3 linked regions of the Homo sapiens genome follow. The protein of the gene in region 1 purifies or fractionates together with the protein of each later gene. This does not show direct contact. Each region holds a gene or a part of one and is shown in the gene's direction. Other genes may lie near its edges.

Region 1 (7,091 bases):
ATTCCAGCCTGGGCAACAAGAGCGAAACTCCGACAAAAAAAACAAAAAACAAAAAACAAAAAAACCTCAGCATGTTGGGAGGCTGAAGCAGGTGGATCATTTGAGGTCAGAGGTTCAAGACCAGCCTGGCCAACATGGCGAAAGCCCATCTCTACTAAAAATATAAATATTAGCCGGGTGGTAGCGACATGCACCTGTAATCCCAGCTACTCAGGAGGCTGAGGCAGGAGAATGGCTTGAGCCTGGGAGAGGTGGAGGTTGCTGTGAGCCTAGATAGCAGACCCTGTCTCAAAAAAAAAAAAAAAGAAAAAGAAAAAAGAAACAAAGAAAACACAGAGAAATCCCAATGCCCTTTGCTCGCTTTCTCCCAATGGTGACATCTTGCAAAACCATAATAAAACATCTCAACTAGGATACTGACAATGATAAAGCAAGATCCAGAACATTCCATCACCACAAAGTTTCCTCATGTTGCCCTTTTACAGCCACATTTACCTCTCTCTTGCTCCCGTCCCCTACCTAATACCTGGCAACCACTAATCTGTGGTTCATTTCTATAATTTGGTCATTTCAAGAATATTATAGAAATGAAATAATATACTATGTAATATATTGGAATTGGTTTTTGTCACTCAGCATAATTCTCTAAGGATTCATCCAGGTTGCTGCATTTATCAAAGTTTATTCCTTTTGCTGAGTATTATTTCATGGTATGGCTGTACCAATTTGTTTAACTGTTCATCCATTAAAAGAACCTGGCTGGGCGTGGTGGCTTACACCTGTAATCCCAGCACTTTGGAAGGCCAAGGCGGGAGGATCACTTGATGTCAGAAGTTCAAGACCAGTCTGGCCAACATGGTGAAACACCGTCTCTATTAAAAATACAAAAATTATCCGGGTGTGGGAGCGTGTGCCTGTAATCCCAGGTACTTGGGAGGCTAAGGTACGAGAATCACTTTGAACCTGGGAGACAGAGGTTGCAGTGAGCCGAGATCACACCATTGCACTCCAGCCTGGGCAACAGAGAGACACTCTTTCTCAAAAAAAAAAAAAAAGAAGCTGAAATAATAGGAAATTGGCTATATCAATTGCAATATATCCATAGGCTAGAACATTCTGCTGCTAGAGAGGTTGCATAAGGCCAGACTAAGGTGCTTAGACCTTCTCCTGAGACCAGCAGTCTCCAAAGTTTTGTTCATATGAACTTAACGGTACAAATATTAGCAAATATCTCATTAGCTGATATCTCAAAGCACGATATACAGTGAGGATGAGAGTCATCATTAATTAATGAGAGGGCATGTAAATTCACATTTCTTTTTTTTTCTTTTTTTTTTTTTTTTTTTGAGGCAGTCTTGTTCTGTCACCCAGGCTGGAGTGCGGTGGCGCAATCTTGGCTCAATGCAACATCCGCCTCCTGGGTTCAAACAATTCTTGTCCCTCAGCCTCCTGAGTAGCTGAGTTTACAGACGTGCACCATCACGCCCGGCTAATTTTTGTATTTTTAGTAGATACAGGGTTTCACTATGTTGGCCAGGCTGGTCTGGAACTCCTGACCCCAAGTGATCCACTCGCCCCGGCTTCCAAAGTGCTGGGATTACAGGTGTGAGTCACTGCGCCTGGTCCGTAAATTCATATTTCAAAGTGTCTTTTTCATTGTTTTCTCAAATTTTATTACATTCCTTACAACATGGCTGACAAAGACCAGCATTCATACCAGAAAGAGACCTGTCAGCTGTGTCCTTTTCTACTTGTTTGCTGTGCTGGTAATTTTCACAGTATCTGGAACTTGCCATTTCTTTGCAGGAATATTTTGAAGCCATTTTTCTGTTCTCGTAGGACAACCTAGTAACATGATCCTACGTTTAGTTAGACTGACACGACTCACTACACACTGCAATGCACTGCAGAATGCTGAAAGGGATGCGTGAGGACCCTGCTGCCCACCTCCCAGGCGTGGACCCTCGTTCCCTCAGGAAGTCTCTGCTTGACATCGGCCCTCATGACTCTCAGACAGAGGTCAGATGTACAGATCAAGTGAGACCAATACATTTACTATGTCATAGAAGACCTTAATTCTTATTTTTATTTTTTATTTTTTGAGACAAGAGTCTCCCTCCGTCGCCCAGGCCGGAGTGCAGTGGTGCGATCTCGGCTCACTGCAAGCTCGGCCTCCCGGGTTCACGCCATTCTCCTGCCTCAGCCTTGCGAGTAGCTGGGACTACAGGCTCCCGACACCACGCCCAGCTAATTTTTTTTTTTTTTTGTATTTTTAGTAGAGATGGGGTTTTACCCTGTTAGCCAGGATGGTCTCGATTTCCTGACCCCGTGATCCGCCCGCCTCGGCCTCCCAATGTGCTGGGATTACAGGCGTGAGCCACGCGCCCGGCCAGAAGAGTTTAATTCTTTTCTCATTTTTAGGTTAAAAAATGAGTAGAGGCCGGGCACGGTGGCTCACGCCAGTAATCCCAGCACTTTGGGAGGCAGAGGCTGGCGGATCACCTGAGGTCGGGAGTTCGAGATTAGCCTGACCAATATGGAGAAACCCCGTCTCTACTAAAAATACAAAATTAGCCAGGCGTGGTGGCTCATGCCTGTAATCCCAGCTACTCGGGAGGCTGAGGCAAGAGAATCGCTTGAATCCGGGAGGCAGAGGTTGGTGTGAGCCAAGATCATGCCATTGCACTCCAGCCTGGGCAACAAGCGCCAAACTCTATCTCAAAAAAAGAAAAAACAAAATTAGCCAGGTGTGGTGGTGCGTGCCTGTAATCCAAGCCACTCGGGAGGCTGAGGCAGGAGAATTGCTTGAACCCGGGAGGTGGAGGTTGCAGCGAGCCTAGATGGTGCCACTGCACTCCAGTGTGGGCGACAGAGTGAGACTCCATAAAAAAAAAAAAAAATTCAGGGGAAAAAAAGCAATTAAAAAAACATAACTATAAAAATAATACAAATTACAAAACAACCATTTGCATAGCATTTACATTATATTAGTTATAAGTAATCTAGAGATGATTAAAGTGTACGGAGGAATGTGCATAGGTTATATGCCAATACTGCCTCATTTTATATGAGGGACTTGAACATAGAAGGGTTTTGGAGTCCACAGAGGTCCTGAAACCAATTTCCCCTTCCCATGCCTGGGATGACTGAATTATACAGCAGCAAAAATGAATATACTCAAGCTATATGCATGAGTCTCATAAATATAATGCTCACAGAAAAAAGCAAGTTGCAGAAGGGTAAATACGGTTGATATATAAAGGTGCTAAACACAGAACTATTTAATGATATACGGATGCAGTAAAAGTATAAGAAATGTATGCAAACTTACTTAAATTCAGGGTGTTGGTTACTTGGAGTAAGGCGAATGTTTGGGATGTCAGTAGGTACCTGACAAATGGCAACTTAACTTTGTTTTGGTTTTTTTGAGATAGGGTCTTGCCCTTTCGCCCAGGCTCAAGTGCTGTGGTGGGATGATAGCTCACTGCAGCCTCGATCTCCAGGCTCAAAAGATCCTCCCTCCCGCCTCCGCGTCCCAAGTAGCTGGGACCACAAGCGCGCGCCACCACGCCCGGCTAATTTTTAATTTTTTTTTGTAGAGTTCAGGTCTCACTGTGTTGCCCAGGATGGTCTTGAACTCCTGGGCTCAAGCGATCCTCCCGCCTTGGCCTCCCAAAGTGCTGGGATTACAGGTGTGAGCCACCGCGCCTGGCCTGCAACTTTACTTATAATAATCTGTGTGGCAGATGTCATTTGGCCCATTTTACAGATGAGGAAATTGAGGCACAGGGAAGTGAACTGGCGGAATTTCAGTTCCGCTGGGTTTTGACACTGAATCAACTGGCTGAACCAGCGAGAGGACGGCCCGGCTGGCTCTCAGGCCTCTCCCGGCGCTCCCTTCCGGACCGGTGAGTGAGACTCCTGGGGCCACGCCTTGTGAAATTCTGAGGCTTCTTTTCAGGGATCGAAATCCCCTCCGGCTCCGCCCTGCGCGTTGGGCCCCGCCCCAGCGGGTCATGAATATGCAAGTGCGAGGAAGATATTTAAAGGCGTCGGCGCCACGCGCATATCCCTGCTCGGCGCTGCCCGCCCAGTTCCTGTTCCCAGACTGAGGCCCAGCCCCCTTCGCCCGTTTCCATCACGAGTGCCGCCAGCATGTCTGACAAACTGCCCTACAAAGTCGGTGAGTCCCAGGACCTGCAGCCGGTTGCGGCCGCCCGGCACCCGCCCGGGGCTTGTTCGTGGCGGGGGCTGCAGGGCCGACTCGGGGCTCTCTGGACCCCCTGGAATCGCAGCCTCGGCGCGTTTCTGGCCGCGCGAAGCCAGCTGGAAGTTGGAGTTCTCGCGCGGCCATGAGCGGGCCGTTCCGGGTGGCCGTGGACTACAAGTCCCAGCATGCCCCGCGACGCCGGGGCCGCCGCGCGGTCTGCGAGCCGCAAACTGGCGGCGTGCTCCGCGGGAGAGCACACCTGGCCACGGCCTGGGACGGCTGGCACCTGCCGGACCCTGCTCGGGGGGCCTGCGCCCGGCCTCCTAGGCCTGGACCGGACCCTGTCCAGCTGGGCGGCCCCGACGAGCGTCCACCCCTCTCTGGGCCTCCTACAGGGACGGCGAGGGCACCCCGGAGGGTGTATGAGGAGAGGCCTGGAAAGCGAGCCCCAGGCCGGCTCCGATCCTCCTCTCCCCTGGGACTTTGGGCCAGTTACCCAACCTGTGGGGTCCCCCACCCCTCCAGCAGGGGCAGCCTTGCAGAAATCTCGAAGAAAATTTGGAGTGGTTTGAAAAATCCTGCTGTCCCACCGATTGAAGTGTAATACAGGGATAGTTAACGTTTACTTAGTGTTTCCTGTGGGATCGGCACTGCCTTCTAGCTTTATTCTAGTCTCATGGCTCTATAGGGAAACTGTTCTCATTTTATGATGAGAATCCTGAGGCAGAGGTAACTTGCCCTCAGTCTTACAGCTGGTGGTGATGGAGCAAGATTGGAACGCAGGCCATCTAGATCTCTGAGCGCACCCTTTCACCACTGTGTGCAAGCGAATACACGCGGAACAATCCTAGTGAATTTTCAGCAAAAACCAGTTCAGTTTGGCTGGTAGCTTTTCAAGTAACTTTGACACTATTGGACCGGGTGTGGTGGCTCACCCCTGTAGTCCCAGCACTTTGAGAGGCCGAGGTGGGCGAATCACTTGAGGTCAAGAGTTCGAGACCAGCCTGGCCAACGTGGTGAAACGCTATCTCTACCAAAAATACAAAAACTAGCTGGGCGTGGTGGCGGGCGCCTTCATTCCCAGCTACTCGGGAGGCTGAGGCAGGAGGACTGTTTGAGCCGGGGAGACGGAGGTTGCAGTGAGCCGAGATTGCACCACCACGCTCCAACCTGGGCAACAGAGCAAGACCCTGTCTCAAAAAAAAAAAACAAACAAAAAAAGACACTATTAAGTCTGGAGAATGCCATCCACATTTATGGAAACACTTGCTGTATATCTGGTGATTTACGTGTGTTTACACAATAATCTTCATAGAGGTGGACGTAATCCCGTTATATAGAGCATGAAACTGAGGCCCTTGGGAGGTGACTTGCAAAGATTCTGTTGAAGTAGTTCATCAAGTTGCTACCAGAGTAGACTGTCTCCATTGTGTGGATGCTGAAACTGAACCCAGAAAGGTTATGTGAAGGTCACATCAATAGTAGAGCTGGAATGGGGGCTTGTCATACTGTGGAGAGATTAGTGGGTCAGGATTGGGGCCATTGGGTTGTGTGGGTGGAGATAAAGCTGGATTTGGGGATGGGGAGCTTAGCTGGGTGGGGCTGGAGGAAGGAGGCCCTGCTGTATGCCAGATCTTGATCATATGGCATTATCTTTACTTAAGGCGCATAGCAAGCTAGGGATGATTATCCACACTTTACAGATGAAGAAACTGATGTTTACAGGGGCTCTTGCTGTTCCTCTTGGCTTGTCCTGGGGACAGGTGTTCCTGTGACTTTTGCAAGTCCTTAGCTCCAGAGATTGCAGCATCTAGCCTCTCCTGTGCCTTTGGAGTTGAGGGTCCCAGGGAAAACTGTGGGGCTGGCACAGTGTCCTCGAGGGCACTGAAGGAGTTATTTTTAGCTGGAGGGACATGTGGTGGTGGAGGGGTGGAGCTTAGCAGCACAGGGCATAACCCATTGTCCCATACAGCCGGGCCCCTCCCAGGAGGGGCCTTGAGAGGGGCCTCTGCTCTAGCCCTGCCTGGCTGCCAGTTCTGGTTCTGCGGTTAATTGGCTATGGAACCTGCAGCAAACTCCTCTCTGGGTCCTCTCTGGGTCATTAGTAAATGCTGGGACTCAGACTAGGTTCAGATTTGTGTTGTTTTTCTTTGCCACCCTTGTCACGTGCCAGCCCCTCTCATGGATCTTTCATTCAGTTCTGAGGACAGATATGGTCGGTAAACAGTTGCTGACCCCTTCTCTGAGCCAGGTCATGCTGGAGACACAAAGGTGACCCAGAGACAGGGGTGGCACAGACATGCATACAGATAAAGTAGTATTGTCTCCATTTTATGTGAGCAGATCTGCCACTTGTCTGTCTCCACGGTCACCACCCCAGTCTGGTCTCTCTCCTTGCAGGTCTCCCTGGATCTCTTGCTCCGCAGATCCACACAGCAGCCAATGGGGTCTTTTCAAAAGACAAATCTGGTCTCTGAATGCTGGCCCCTGAAAACTGTAGGTTCCCCACTTCACTGGGACTGAAGTCCCAACTCATCTTATGCCTCTATTTGAGTCACCCTGGTGCACTCTTGGTTCCTCTAGCAGGGATATACTAGGTTCTTTCCTGTTTCCAGGTTTTTTTCAGCACCTACTGTGTGCCAGGTACTGTATTAGGTGCTTGAGAGGAGCCTTCCAGGCCGAGAACTGCTTGGGTTAAAGCCCTGAGGTGGAAATGAGTGGAGCTTGCCTGAAGTCAGTCAGGAAGCCTGTGTGTTGAACAGCTAGTGAGTGGGGAAAGTGGAGAGATGGAGGAGGGGCAGGCAGTCATGCAGATAGGGCCCGAAGATTGAGGGAAGCCATTGGAGGGTTTGCTTGTTTAGTTTTGTTTACTTTAGTAGAA
Region 2 (7,025 bases), on another chromosome or scaffold:
AGTTTCACTTTTTCACCCAGGCTGGAATGCAGTGGTGGGATCTCAACTCACTGCAACCTCTGTCTTCCTGTTTCAAGCTATTCTCCTGCCTCAGCCTCCTGAGTAGCTGGGATTAGAGGCACCTGCCACCATTCCTGGCTAATTTTGTATTTTTAGTAGAGATGGGGTTTCACCATGTTGGCCAGGCTGGTCTCAAACTCCTGACCTCGTGATCCACCTGCCTCGGCCTCCCAAAGTGCTGGGATTATAGGTGTGAGCCACCGCGCCCGGCTGTTAGTGTATCTTTTAATTTTAATGGCCTTCCTGTGGTTCTTCTGTCTGAGAATGCCTAGGAGTCTCTTTGTTCTATGCTTTGTTGAAAAAGCCTGGGCTAGGATTCCAGAGATCAAGTTGGTCCTCCCCACTGAGTGGTCTCAGCTCACCACCTCCTTCCCTTGGAATCTTCTTGCCGATGAAGAATGCCCAGGGAATTGGGCTAGGACTAGGGTAGGAGATTTCAGTTTGTGCAAGTCCAAAAACTGATTTGTTTTGTCTGATGTAGTCAGGGGAAATAAAGTTGGCTCTTGTTTAGGGCCTTATAGGCCAAGTTTTTTAGTAAGTTGTAGATTCCCATGGTTTAGACATGAAACATCAAAGAACTGAATTGGCATGTCAGAAGATGGGAAAACGAGACTGAAGAAGATAAATCTTAAACACTTGAAGTGTCTCTGAGTTCATTTCATCAGTGACCAGGTACAGGTTACCTCTGTACCTGTGGGTGAGGGAAGTCTAAAGAAAAATCCAGGCCGGGCGCAGTGGTTCATGTTTGTAATCAGAGGACTTTGGGAGGCCAAGGTGGGCAGATCATTTGAGACCAGCCTGAGCAACATGGTGAGACCCCCATCTCTACAAAAAAACCACAAAAATCAGCTGGGCATGGTGGTGCACACCCAAGTCCTAGCGACTTGGGAGGCTGAGGTAGGAGAATCGCTTGAGCCCAGGAGGTGGAGGTTGTGGTGAGCCGTGATCGTGCCATTGCATTCCAGCCTAGGTAACAGAGCACGAGACCCTCTCGAGGGGGGGAAAAGAAACGAAAAATCCAGGAACAGGTAGGCCTTTTCTGTTCTTTCTGCAATTGAATCTGTTTTTTTTTTGTTGTGTTTTTTTTTTTGTTTCGTTTTGTTTTTTTTTTTTGAGATGGAGTCTCATTCCGTCACCCAGGCTGGAGTGCAGTGACGCTATCTCGGCTCACTGCAGCCTCCGCCTCCCAGGTTCAAGAGATTCTCCTGTCTCAGCCTCCTGAGTAGCTGGGATTACAGGTGCACACCACTGTGCCCAGCTAATTTTTTTGTATTTTAGTAGAGATGGGTTTCACCATGTTGCCCAGGCTGGTCTTGAATTCCTGAGTTCAGGCAATCCACCTGCCTCAGCCTCCCAACGTGCTAGGATTACAGGCATGAGCCACTGCATCTGGCCGAATCTCTGTTGTAGTGGGAATCAAATGATTGCCCAACTCTCAGGAGACATAGCCCTGTTGCTTCTGATTAAGGAAAGGGTTAAGACTTGTAACTTAAATAAATAAACAGAACAAAAAAGGATTGGAAAATGGAGTCCCTGGCAGAGAAAATAGCAAACTGGGCTTATTGAATGCATGCCATTTTGCTACACTTGCTCCTGTTGCCTCCTCCCCCACTGCTGGAGGCGGGAGGTAGAGGATCTTTCTGCTGGAGGCAGGCAAAGGATATTTCTTTGGTTTTTGGAGACAGGGTTTCACCATGTTGGCCAGGCTGGTCTCAAACTCCTGACCTCAAGTGATCCACCCACCTTGGCCTCCCAAAGTGTTGGGATTAGATGTGAACCACCGTGCCCGGCTGGTAGGGGATCTTGAATGTTGCTGTTCCTTTGCCCTTAGCATTTGCACCAGGTTGTCTGCACAGAAACGATGACCCCTCTTGTTGCCTGTTGGAAGTCTGTTTGTTCCAACCCTGTGTTTTCTTTCCTTGCAGCTGGTCCTGGACTCCCAGAAGCGAGTCTTCTCCTGGGGCTTTGGTGGCTATGGCCGGCTGGGCCACGCAGAGCAGAAGGATGAGATGGTCCCCCGCCTGGTGAAGCTGTTTGACTTCCCTGGGCGTGGGGCTTCCCAGATCTATGCTGGTTACACCTGCTCCTTTGCTGTCAGTGAAGTGGGTTAGTGATTTCTGCCCCCTGGCTTATCAGTGCTCTGGTGCGGAACCGTGTAGCCATTGTCCTGTCCCTAGACCACGAACCCCAATTCTCTTTACCTCCCAGTGTTCTTTATTTTTTTGAGACAGGAACTCGTTGTGTTGTCCAGGCCGGTGTCGAACTCCTGGGCTCAAGCAGTCCTACCACCACAGCGTCCTGAGTAGCTAGGACTGCACAGGCACGCCACCACGCCTGGCTCCAGTTATCTTTTAGACAGAACACTTGTTTGCCATCCCGTCCTCTTTTCACCCTGATAATACTGAAGATGAGACTCAGCTCTCGATGTCTGGTCACGCTGGGAACATGTTTTGTCTTCCCTTAGGTGGTCTGTTTTTCTGGGGGGCCACCAACACCTCCCGTGAATCTACCATGTACCCAAAAGCAGTGCAGGACCTCTGCGGCTGGAGAATCCGGAGCCTGGCTTGTGGGTAGGTGGCAGCATCTCCTGTGGGTATGAGGTCTCTTCCTTTCATGGGGGTGTCAGACACACCCATGGGGTGCCCCTCCCTGATGGGGCTCTGTTTCTGCTGCCTGTTGGGCTGTCCTCAGCAGGCCATCTGACACACTGAATCCCAGAGTCCGGGGGTACAGGAGGGGAGAGGGCCCATTTGCTGCTAGAACAGATGGCTGTTCCCTGTCTTGTGGGAAGAAAGTCATTTTGAAGGTTTCTGTTCAAAGAAATAAACAAGCAGAGCTTGATGTATTCCTACGCTGCAGGTTGAAAATTATACGTAGTTGGAAACGTAGCAGGACTTGAGTTGCTGTGACACTGGGAAGACGACATTGTCTTGGCAGCAGTGGTTTGTAGTTCATTTCAGGACACCTGTTGAGTTAGCTAGCACTTCTTGCTGAGGAGTTGGATTTATCAGCTGGCAGGTGTGGGTGGAACAGTATGAGGGGCCTCTGTCGGCGTGGCTTTAATCTGTTGAAGGCTCTAGCCCTGCCCAAATCATTATGCATGAAGGCTGCTCCCTCTGGAACAGGCTTTCACTTTATCCTGATCTGGTCTCCTCTTCCCAAAGCGACCTCCCACTGAGAGAGAGCTGTGCAGGATGCACAGCAAGGTCCCCTGCCTTTGGCCCCTAGGCCTGTCTAAGGGCTTTGTTGTTTTGTTGAAGCGTTGAGTGGCCTGCACGGAACAATCTTAGGATTGAGGAGAAACCTGTTGGCCCTGTTATTGTGTTTGCTACTTGGAATGAGTACGCCAAGGGAAAAGTGGCAGCTCACACTCATGCCCTTGAGCCATAGCTGCGTGGGTGCAGGTCTGGGGCTGCTGGCCCTGCAGTGACAGCCTGCCTGTTTGCAGGAAGAGCAGCATCATTGTGGCCGCCGATGAGAGCACCATCAGCTGGGGTCCGTCACCGACCTTTGGGGAACTGGTAAGCTGTCACCTGTGCGGGTCAGGGGAAGTGGAAGCCAGTCAGGGTGGCTCATGGCCTTTGGGTTCTCTCCACCTGTCTCCCAAAACACACAGAAGAAAAACATTTGGGATTCCCCCCTTATTGTATTAAGGTTTGCAACACGATTGAGTCCCATGAGTTTTCAAGGACAATTCTGTGCTAGTCAGATAATTCTGAGTCATCTCTGCACATTTGTAAACTCTGAAAATTGGGACTTTTCAGATCCGGTTTCCCCTCACATTTTGTAAACCACAGTTGGGTTATGGTAGGAAAAGGGCCTGTTTGTTCCCTCTCCCCTGGAGGCCTAAGTCAGTGGGAAACTCACAGTTGTGGGTGATTTGAGGACATTCTTCATTTTTCCAAATTGAGTTTAAACCTGTGTTTCTGTTGTTAATACCAGTTACTTGAGTGATGAGGTTAGAACTCATGACCCTCAATTTCACACACGTGGCCTTCCGCAAACAAATGTCTTTCATTCTTAGATCCTGGTGCTAGGTGAGTCTTTTTTTTTTTTTTTTTTGAGATGGAGTTTCTCTGTCACCCAGGCTGGAGTGCAGTGGCGCGATCTTGGCTCACTGCACCCTCTGTCTCCCAGGTTCAAATGATTCTCAGTTCTCCTGCTTCAGCCTCCTGAGTAGCTGGGACTCTAGGCGTTTGCCACCACGCCCAGCTAATTTTTGTATTTTTGGTAGAGATGGGGTTTCACCATGTTGGCCAGGCTGTCTTGAACTCCTGACCTTAGGTGATCCACCCGCCTCAACCTCCCAAAGTGCTGGGATTACAGGCGTGAGCCACTGCACCTGGCCAAGGCGGGTCTTTGAGTTTTTGTTAGGAAGACTAGCTTGGCTGTGGAGTGCATCCTGATCTGCCTACACTAGTCATGGTTTGATTCTCCGCTTAACTCTTGGTGGTCTTAGTTTTAGTCCCTTATTTCTTGTTAGAAGCACAGTCTGTCTCCCTCTCCTGCACTCTTGTGGTTGCAAGGTACTCTTGTGGTTGATGGAGAGGAGGGGAAGGAAGGGCGTTCCTTGGTCCCTTGAGCTGTGGCTGGGATGGATGGTGAATGCACCTTTTTCTCGGGGCTCTGCACACCCTTGGAGTCTGGCTCAGATGCTCTGGTGGCCCGATTTGAAACATTGACAGGAAAGAGACAGAGCCTGGCCCAGTTTCTACAGATAGTTCTTAGAGGAGGAAGGATGTTTTCTGGGGCCTATCAGAAATAGACTTTGACCTTCTAAATATAAATTTTGAAACTAGAGGGGAGCAAGGGAGACTTTTTGGGGAGCTTCTCAAGGGTGAGAAGTTGGCCTGGCACCTTGGAGGGAACATCTACTGTGTGGGAAGGCCCGAGGTGGGGCCTGGCAGGAGATGAAACCAGGGACATGTGGGCAGGCCTGGGCTGGGGAGGGAGGGTCCTCCTCTCCCGCCCTGTGGGACCCTCTGTTTCACCTGAGCCAGGGCCTTCAGTCTTTCAATTGCCCAGCTCCACACCTTTGCACAAGACTCCCCCTTAGCTGCGCCAATTCATCCAGTTCCTTCTACCTCTGGGAGGGAAACTGGTTCTCTGGTGCCATTGCTAATAGTCTCCCTGTCACGCTTAAGCCCTTTTATTTTGTTTTGTTTTGGATGGTGATTATTCCACTCTGGATGGTGGAGGCATCAAGGGCATTTGGTCAGCCCGTGTTCTTGGTCGCTTTGGTCCTGAAGGGCCGCAGTTGCCATTCTTCCTGCACTCGTGGTGTCATCTCTTGTCACCAGTGCCATACTCCCCAGAAGGGACTTGTGCACACAGAAGTCCTGCAGGCTAGAGTTGGGCACCTTGGTCTTCCTTAGGTTAAGCGCTAGTCGCCTGCTGGTGGCACCTTTTGTGGATAAACTTGGATGATTCCACCTGGCCCTTGTGTGCAAGGGTGGCCGGGCTTGTCATGGGCCAGAGGGCATCATCACTGGCTTCTGGTTAGTGGGGGCCAGGAAATGTTGCCGTGATTCCCCACTTGTGGACTGAGCCACATGGATCCTCGATTGCGAACATCTTGTTTGCTTCGCCAGGGCTACGGGGACCACAAGCCCAAGTCTTCCACTGCAGCCCAGGAGGTAAAGACTCTGGATGGCATTTTCTCAGAGCAGGTGAGTGGGGGCAGCTGTGCCAGCTCGGGGACGTGTCCGTACCCAGTGGTATGTCACTCCTCATGATTTTGATCATCGCAGTCTGTTTGGGTTGTCTTGTTTACCATCTCAGCTGGCTTTCCTGGTGTCTCACGCTAAGATTTGTTTGAGAGGTAACAATCATTCTGCAGGAGAGAGTGCACAGGGTTGCTGGCCAGGCTGGGTGGCTGTCCTCACCCTTGATGACAGATGGCACCAACTGGCCGCAGCAGATCCACTCTCGGGCGAGCACATCGCTCGCGTCTCCATCACACCCAGGACTCAGATCCACTGGGCTGGAGGCAGGTCCGCAGGTCCACAGAGTAGAGGCTGCGTGGCTGCAGGAGTCAGATGGCGGGGTGAGGCCCCTGCGGCTCAGTCAGCCAGCCTGCTGGCCCTGTCTGCCAAGACACAGAGAGGGGTGGTGCACCTCACCCAGGCAGGATTGTGAGCCAGAGAGGGGGGGGATGGAAGTGGAGCTGGAGCCATGTCCCCACCTGTCCCTGCTGATAAGAGGTGGCCCAGTGGGCTTCCTTCCAGCTGGGTCTCCCAGGGCAGCCTGGAAGGCTCTGATTGGCAGAGCGTTGGTGGCAGTCACATGGAAACTAGCTGTCTTGGGCAGAGGGGCTTTTTGCAGTTTTCAAGGGCACTCTGTTTTTCTCCATGCTGACCCGCTTTAGCAGCCCAGTTTCCAGAGTCTCTTCAACGCATTGATTAGTCCAGGCGCCTCAGGCACACCCAACGCTGATTTGTCCCCCCAGGTCGCCATGGGCTACTCACACTCCTTGGTGATAGCAAGAGATGAAAGTGAGACTGAGAAAGAGAAGATCAAGAAACTGCCAGAATACAACCCCCGAACCCTCTGATGCTCCCGGAGACTCCTCCGACTCCACACCTCTCGCGGCAGCTGTCATTTCCATGTGCACTGGGACGGGAAGTCAAACGAGGAATTTAAAAAAGCAAAAGTTGACCGAAGGTGCATTTTTGTTTAGACTCCCTGAGGTTCCGTTTTACACATGATCCAACGTTAACTACCTTTTTTTCTGTATGCTTTCCAAAGTCCTTTTTTTTCCCTTAATGTTGAATTAAAATACTTGCTCATAGTTGATTTACCATTCCTACAAAAGAGGCAGAAACTTTGAGCAATCTAGGTTTTTTTTTTTTTTAAGTTTTTTCTTTCTTCCTCTCCTGAATACACTCCCCAAAACACCCCTTTCCAGTTACAATTAGCATCGTGATCCAAGCAGATGCCACATGGAAGAGGAATCGCCATTTACT
Region 3 (7,025 bases), on another chromosome or scaffold:
GCTGTTAGATTGAATATGGAGTGGGGAAGAAAAAGTAGAATCAAGTTTTAGCTCCCAAGTTTTTTTGCCTGAGGAACCAAAAGGAAGATGTTTCTATTTACCTGATTGGAAAGACCTCAGGAGTTTGAGTTTGCATATTAAATTCAAGATGGTTTATTAAACATCAAAACAAAGGTGCTGAGTAGGCAGTTGTATATATGAGCCTGGACTTTAGAGGAGAAAACTGGGCTGGAGGTATAAATTTGGGGGTTTACCAGCATACAGACAGAATTTTAAGGTGATGAGAGTATGAGATCTCTTAGAATATTTAGAAAAGAGATTTAAGGGCTGAGGACTGAGTAACTTCCATGTGTAGAGGTGGGCAAGATGAAGAGGAACCAGCAAAGAGATTCAGAAGGAATAGACAGTAAAATAAGTGAACCAAGAGAGTGGTATGCTGAGAGCCAAATAAAGTGTGAAGTACTGTGGTATAGTAGAATGAGTATGAGTTTGGGAGCCTGTCAGGCCTGATTTAGTTACTTAATTACCTGAGAGTTCATACAAGTTTCTTGATATCTCAGAGCCATAAAATAGGAGTAACACATGCACATGTAAAATACCTAGCCTAACATCTATTGCCCCATAGGTAATATTTGCCAGAAACACATTTGTCAAGTAGTTGAATATATTTTTGTGGTTAATAGTAGTCAAGAAAGAAACAGTATATTCTGACAAGTCTAATATATGAGATTCTTTTAATATAAGAACTTGGTAGCTGTACAATGCATTTGAAAGCCATGTGCAACTGAGAACCAAAATTGAATTATCAATGCACTAGATAGACAAGGCAACTGAAGTAACTTGGGTGGAGAGGTGAGAATACTGTGAAACAATCTCTATGTGGGACTTAATGTACGTCCTATACCTCATTAATTGCTGTGTCAAGAAAGACCTTTATAAAGAAAGGTTATAGCAATGTAGTTTTTGTCTTTGTTATGTATTTCCTATTCCTATAGCTAAAAATCTACTGAGACATACCAGTTTTAACATTTATAGAGGAAGAAGGCTGGGTGCAGTGGCGCACACCTGTAATCCCAGCACTTTGGGAGGCCGAGGCAGGAGGATTACTTGAGCCCAGGAGTTCAACAGGCAACAAGATAAAACCCCATCTCTTCAAAATATTTAAAAATTAGCTGAGTGTGGTGGCATGCACCTGTTGTTCCAGCTACTCAGGAGGCTGAGGTGGAAGGATCACTTGAGCCCAGGAGATCGAGACTATAGTGAGCTATGATTACACCTCTGCACTCCAGCCTGGGTGACAGAGCAGTAAATACCCTGTCTAAAAAATAAAATAAAATAGGCCGGGCGCAGTGGCTCACGCCTGTAATCCCAGCACTTTGGGAGGCTGAGATGGGCGGATTACAAGGTCAGGAGATCAAGACCAGCCTGGCCAATATGGTGAAACCCTGTCTCTACTAAAAATATAAAAGAAATAAGCCGAGCGTGGTGGCACACACCTGTTGTTCCAGCTACTCGGGAGGCTGAGGCAGAAGAATAGTTTGGACATGGAAGGCAGAGGTGACAAGTGAGCCAAGATCGCACCGCTGCACTCCAGCCTGGGCAACAGAGCGAGACTCCGTCTCAAAACAAAACAAAACAAAAAACAAACAAACAAATAAAATTGGCTGGGAGCAGTGGCTCATGCCTGTAATCCTAGCACTTTGGGAGGCTGAGGCAGGTGGATCACTTGAGGCCAGGAGTTTGAGGCCACCAGGCCAACATAGTGAAACCCTATCTCTACTAGAAATACAAAAAATCAGCTGGGCGTGGTGGCACACGCCTGTAATGCCAGCTACTTGGGAGCCTGAGGCATGAGAATTGCTTGAACCCAGGAGGCAGAGGTTGCAGTGAGCCGAGATCATGCCACTGCACTCCAGCCTGAGCGACAGAGCAAGACTCTGTCTCAAAAAAAAAAAAAAAAAAAAAATGAAACCATAGAGGCAGAGATTGTGAGAAATTAATTGTGGTTATTGCTTGAGTCTTTTCAGCATGAAAAAATTTTAATTTGTGACTATTTTCTCTATAAAGGCATAGCAAATGAATCTAAAAAGTTATATGGAGCACAGTTCCACCCTGAAGTTGGCCTTACAGAAAATGGAAAAGTAATACTGAAGAATTTCCTTTATGATATAGCTGGATGCAGTGGAACCTTCACCGTGCAGAACAGAGAACTTGAGTGTATTCGAGAGATCAAAGAGAGAGTAGGCACGTCAAAAGTTTTGGTAAGCAAATTATTATCTGGAAGTCTACAAATTTATATCAATAATATTGGAATCCAGGAGTTAGAGTCCTCAACACAGCCCTTAAATGTTCTACAGTTTTAGAGTGCTTTTCCAGTTACCATACATATCTTTGGTATAAATAGCACTTTTAGATAAAGATTTAAGCCAATAGTGTTTATTTTCTTTTTGCTTGTTTTGCTCATTTTGATTTTTCATTTTACCCCGTAGGTTTTACTCAGTGGTGGAGTAGACTCAACAGTTTGTACAGCTTTGCTAAATCGTGCTTTGAACCAAGAACAAGTCATTGCTGTGCACATTGATAATGGCTTTATGAGAAAACGAGAAAGCCAGTCTGTTGAAGAGGCCCTCAAAAAGCTTGGAATTCAGGTCAAAGGTATTGAAGAACCTCAGAAAAGTTAACTTACATGTTAGGACTTGTTTAATCAAATCTAGTCTTATGGTTTAAATGAGCACAATTACAGTTTTCTCAGTATGCTCAAGGTTGAAAATGTTTTTTATTTTTACAATTACCTCTGGTGTAAGAGAGGTCTCAGTATAAATTTTTAAACTATTGATTCTGCTAATTTAATACATAGATTGATAAATTAACATTTTCTAGCTACTGTTCAGTTCTCTTCTAGTCATTCACTTTTAAAATTATCTTTTCCTGGCCAGGCGCGGTGGCTCACGCCTATAATCCCAGCACTTAGGGAGATCAAGGTGGGTGGATCACCTGAGGTCAGGAGTTTTGAGATCAGCCTGGCCAACATGATGAAACCCCATCTCTACTAAAAATACAAAAAATTAGCCAGTCTTGGTGGTGGGCGCCTGTGATCCCAGCTACTCGAGAGGCTGAGGCAGGAGAATCACTTGAACCTGGGAGGTGGAGGCTGCAGTAAGCAGAGATCATGCCACTGCACTCCAGCCTGGGCAACAAGAGCGAAACTCCATCTCAAAAAAAAAAAAAAAAGAAATTATCTTTTCCCACTCTATTTAATGATATTTATGTACGAGGCTACCCAAGCCCTCCTCAGGTATGGGTATACAGATTATTTTGCAAACAGAAAAGCTTATTGTGGGAGAGGTAAAGATTCTATACTTTTTTTTTAAAGGGCCACTAGTAAACTTCTTAGTCCTTAATAACATTTACTTTTGTAGATACCTTTTATACTTTTTAAAAACAAGGTGCAATTGATAGTTATAATGAAATGAGGTCAGTAGTTTAATGATAAAAGTTATTGTACATATTATGGAATTAATTGGAATTGATACCAAAAGGCTGAATAAAATGAAGACTTGTAGGTAAGTATGATGTGAACATGAGTCTATTTTTTTGAAACTTCTCTAAAATAACAGTAAAAGCATAAAACAGTGTAATACCTTAAGGATGTGGGATAGAGGAGATGACAGAAGACAGATGGTTTCAATAAAGTGTTGGAAAGTGGAAAGCAGATGGGTAAAGGTGGATTTTCTCTGTTTAAGCTAGGGGGGTCTCTCCCAACATCCTGGGAAGGTCCCCAATGGTATCTTCACATGGTGATAGGTTTTTGTGAAATTTGCAAGATATTTTGATAATTTGTAGTTGTTTATTTTCTTTCAACTCTGACTTGTTTTCTGTTAGGTGGTGCTGGAATAGCTGTGGGCATTTTGAAATCAGGCTAAGACAAAGATGAGCTGGGGATGTGCTTAGTATGGGTTTAGTGGTATATATGTGATTTGCAATTATTTCTGTGTATAGTTAAGTACTTGTTAGCCATCCCAGTATAACTTAAGATTTTTAGTATCTTATTTGTTATTCTGGTTCTTGAAGGAGTCCTTCAAATTGTAAAACTTGGATCTGTCCCTGGTAACTGACATAGCAGAATGGAGGAATTCACAACCTTGGGGTGGGGTGGGAAGGAAGCCAATAAAAAGCAAGCTGATTTGTGCTGTAGACTTCTGGGGAGGCTCAGGAATTTGAAGCATTGGGTTCTTTTTGGGACATTGGTCTCTGGGTTAGCCTAAAACAGGGATTAGTTAAAAATCTGAGAAGCAGATCCTTTTCCTTAGCACAGGAGCAAACTGTGCTCTCCTTCCCCATCAGAACACTGTGGATGTATTCTCTAGAGGGGCTAAACGAGAGGTTCTGGGCTTGAGCCTACTAATACCAGGCATAGTTGAGGGTGGAGGTAAGACTCTACATTAAGAACAGGATTAAGTAAAATTCTCTATGCTGAATGGTGATTCCCTCTTCCTACCACTTCCTCTGTTTAACTGCCAGAATGCCAATAGGCAGGAGAGTAGATATGTCTTCTCTGGGTAGTTGACCAGGTACAGGAAAGACCTACAAATTCACTGGCTTTTCCACAATGAAATAGCCAGCTGCCTTGTCATCTTACGGTGAAGGCCTCCAGTAGCTAAGTTTTATTAGCAAATAGAGATCTTAGTTTTTAGTTTCTTGTCATTAAATAAAAAGCCAAGGATTGTTAAATGTATGTTCATAAATATTAGTTTTACAAGACACTAGGGTGTGATTCCAACAGCTTTGACTCCGTTTAGGAGCCGGTGCTTTTGACTTCTTTGGGGCTAAGCTTCTTGCTGTGGCTTCTGCTTGTTGCTCTGGTGAAGCACTGAAGAGAGGGAAAACAATCAGCATAAATTTTTTTTTTTTTTTTGAGACAGAGTCTTGTTCTGTTGCCCAGGGCAGAATGCAGTGGCACAACCTCGGCTCACTGCAACCTCTGCCTCCCAGGTTTAAGCAATTCTCTTGCCTCAGCCTCTGAGTAGCTGGGATTGCAGACATGTGCCACTACGCCCCACTAATTTTTGTGTTTTTAGTAGAGATGTGGTTTTGCCATTTTGGCCAGGCTGGTCTCACACTGCTGACCTCAAGTGATCCACCCAACTTGGCCTCCCAAAGTGCTGGTATTACAGGTGTGAGCCACCGTGCCGGCCCTAATCAGCATAATTTGTGATGTCATGGCCCTAGATCTAAATGCCAGGAGATTCTCACAGAAACAAAATTTAATGAGTGCCTGTATCTGAATTCTGTTACTCAGGATTTATTGATAGTTCTTTTTCTTTTCTTATTTTTTTTTTGGGGATGGAGTCTCTCTCTGTCACCCAGGCTGGAGTGCAGTGGCACAATCTCTGCTCACTGCAAGCTCCGCCTCCCGGGTTCACACCATTCTCCTGCCTCGGCTTCCCAAGTAGCTGGGACTACAGGCACCCGTCACCACACCCAGCTAATTTTTTGTATTTTTAGTAGTGATGGGATTTCACCATGTTAGCCAGGATGGTCTTGATCTCCTGACCTCGTGATCCACCTGTCTCGGCCTCCCAAAGTGCTGGGATTATAGGCATGAGCCACCGGGCCCGGCCAATAATTCTTGAATATTGATAGTTTATTGAAATTTGTAGGCAGATTTAGGGGAGATCAAAGGACTGCTCTTCAGACTGGGAAAGAAATAGCTTTTCTTTCTGTATTTTGACTTGTTATTTTTGATTAAAAAACATGTTATACCAATTTAAAACGCTTCTCCCCTTTCCTCCAGTGATAAATGCTGCTCATTCTTTCTACAATGGAACAACAACCCTACCAATATCAGATGAAGATAGAACCCCACGGAAAAGAATTAGCAAAACGTTAAATATGACCACAAGTCCTGAAGAGAAAAGAAAAATCATTGGGGATACTTTTGTTAAGGTACCTTTGTTTTTAATATCCTCAACATGTACTATTTTTGATGTGAATCTTAGTATTTGTTTTTCCTTGTCACTATATCAAATAACCAAATTAGCTAATTTTAATCCTTTTTCTTATGTGGCTGAGAGTTTTATTGTATATTGTCATTATATTGACCAGTAGAAACTGTTTTATGTTTTTTTGTTGTTGTTTGGTTTTTTTTTTGTTTTTTTGAGACAGAGTCTTGCTGTGTCACCAGGCTGGGCTGGAGTGCAGTTGCACGATCTCGGCTCGCTGCAACCTCTGCCTTCTGGGTTCAAGTGATTCTCCTGCCTCAGCCTCCTAAGTAGCTGGGACTACAGGGGTGCACCATCATGCCCAGCTAATTTTTGTACTTTTAGTAGAGACGGGGGTTTCACCATGTTGGCCAGGTTGGTCCGGATCTCCTGACCTCATGATCCGCCCGCCTCAGCCTCCCGAACTTCTGGGATTACAGGTGTGAGCCACTATGCCCAGCCAACTGTTTTATGTTTTAATAAACATGTTTGCCTACATTGCCAGGCTATTATTTTAAGAATAGATGTCTTTAAGAGTAGATGTATTCAGCTTATCATAGACTTTAATTCATTGATTATCTCAATGGCTAATTTCAAGCTCTTGAATGGAATGTTCACATACCTTTGTTTTTGTTTTTTTTTTTTTTTGGAGGCGGAGTTTTGTTCTTGTCACTCAGGCTGGAGTACAATGGAGCGATCTTGGCTCACGGCAACTTTCACCTGCTGGGTTCAAGCGATTCTCCTGCCTCAGCCTCCCGAGTAGCTGGGATTACAGGCATGCACCACCATGCCCAGCTAATTTTTTTCTTTTTTTGAGATGGAGTCTCACTCTGCCGCCCAGGCTGGAGTGTAGTGGTGCAATCTTGGCTCACTGCAAACTTTGCCTCCAGGGTTCAAGCGATTCTCCTGCCTCAACTTCCTGAGTAGCTGGGATTACAGGCGTGTGCCACCATGCCCGGCTAGTTTTTGTATTTTTAGTAGAGACGGGGTTTCACCATGTTAGTCAGGCTGGTCTCAAACTCCTGACCTTGTGATCTGCCTGCC

Evidence for each region. Proteins that work in one complex are often made in the same cells at the same time.
Region 2: the proteins of AHCY (region 1) and RCC2 purify together in Homo sapiens (affinity purification with mass spectrometry; 2 studies listed by BioGRID, with this or other methods). This does not show direct contact.
Region 3: the proteins of AHCY (region 1) and GMPS fractionate together in Homo sapiens (co-fractionation; 2 studies listed by BioGRID). This does not show direct contact.

The regions. Positions count from the first base shown.
Region 1 is NC_000020.11:34,300,335-34,307,425, reverse strand, and holds the start of AHCY (adenosylhomocysteinase), read left to right. Parts: upstream 1-4,070; 5' UTR 4,071-4,155; coding exon 4,156-4,183; intron 4,184-4,435; exon of another isoform or gene 4,436-5,645; coding exon of another isoform or gene 5,646-5,679; intron 5,680-7,091. UniProt on the Homo sapiens protein: Catalyzes the hydrolysis of S-adenosyl-L-homocysteine to form adenosine and homocysteine. Binds copper ions.
Region 2 is NC_000001.11:17,408,678-17,415,702, reverse strand, and holds part of RCC2 (protein RCC2), read left to right. Parts: intron 1-1,985; coding exon 1,986-2,166; intron 2,167-2,524; coding exon 2,525-2,630; intron 2,631-3,508; coding exon 3,509-3,581; intron 3,582-5,651; coding exon 5,652-5,729; intron 5,730-6,508; coding exon 6,509-6,613; 3' UTR 6,614-7,025. UniProt on the Homo sapiens protein: Multifunctional protein that may affect its functions by regulating the activity of small GTPases, such as RAC1 and RALA. Required for normal progress through the cell cycle, both during interphase and during mitosis.
Region 3 is NC_000003.12:155,908,625-155,915,649, forward strand, and holds part of GMPS (GMP synthase [glutamine-hydrolyzing]), read left to right. Parts: intron 1-2,067; coding exon 2,068-2,261; intron 2,262-2,489; coding exon 2,490-2,655; intron 2,656-5,794; coding exon 5,795-5,946; intron 5,947-7,025. UniProt on the Homo sapiens protein: Catalyzes the conversion of xanthine monophosphate (XMP) to GMP in the presence of glutamine and ATP through an adenyl-XMP intermediate.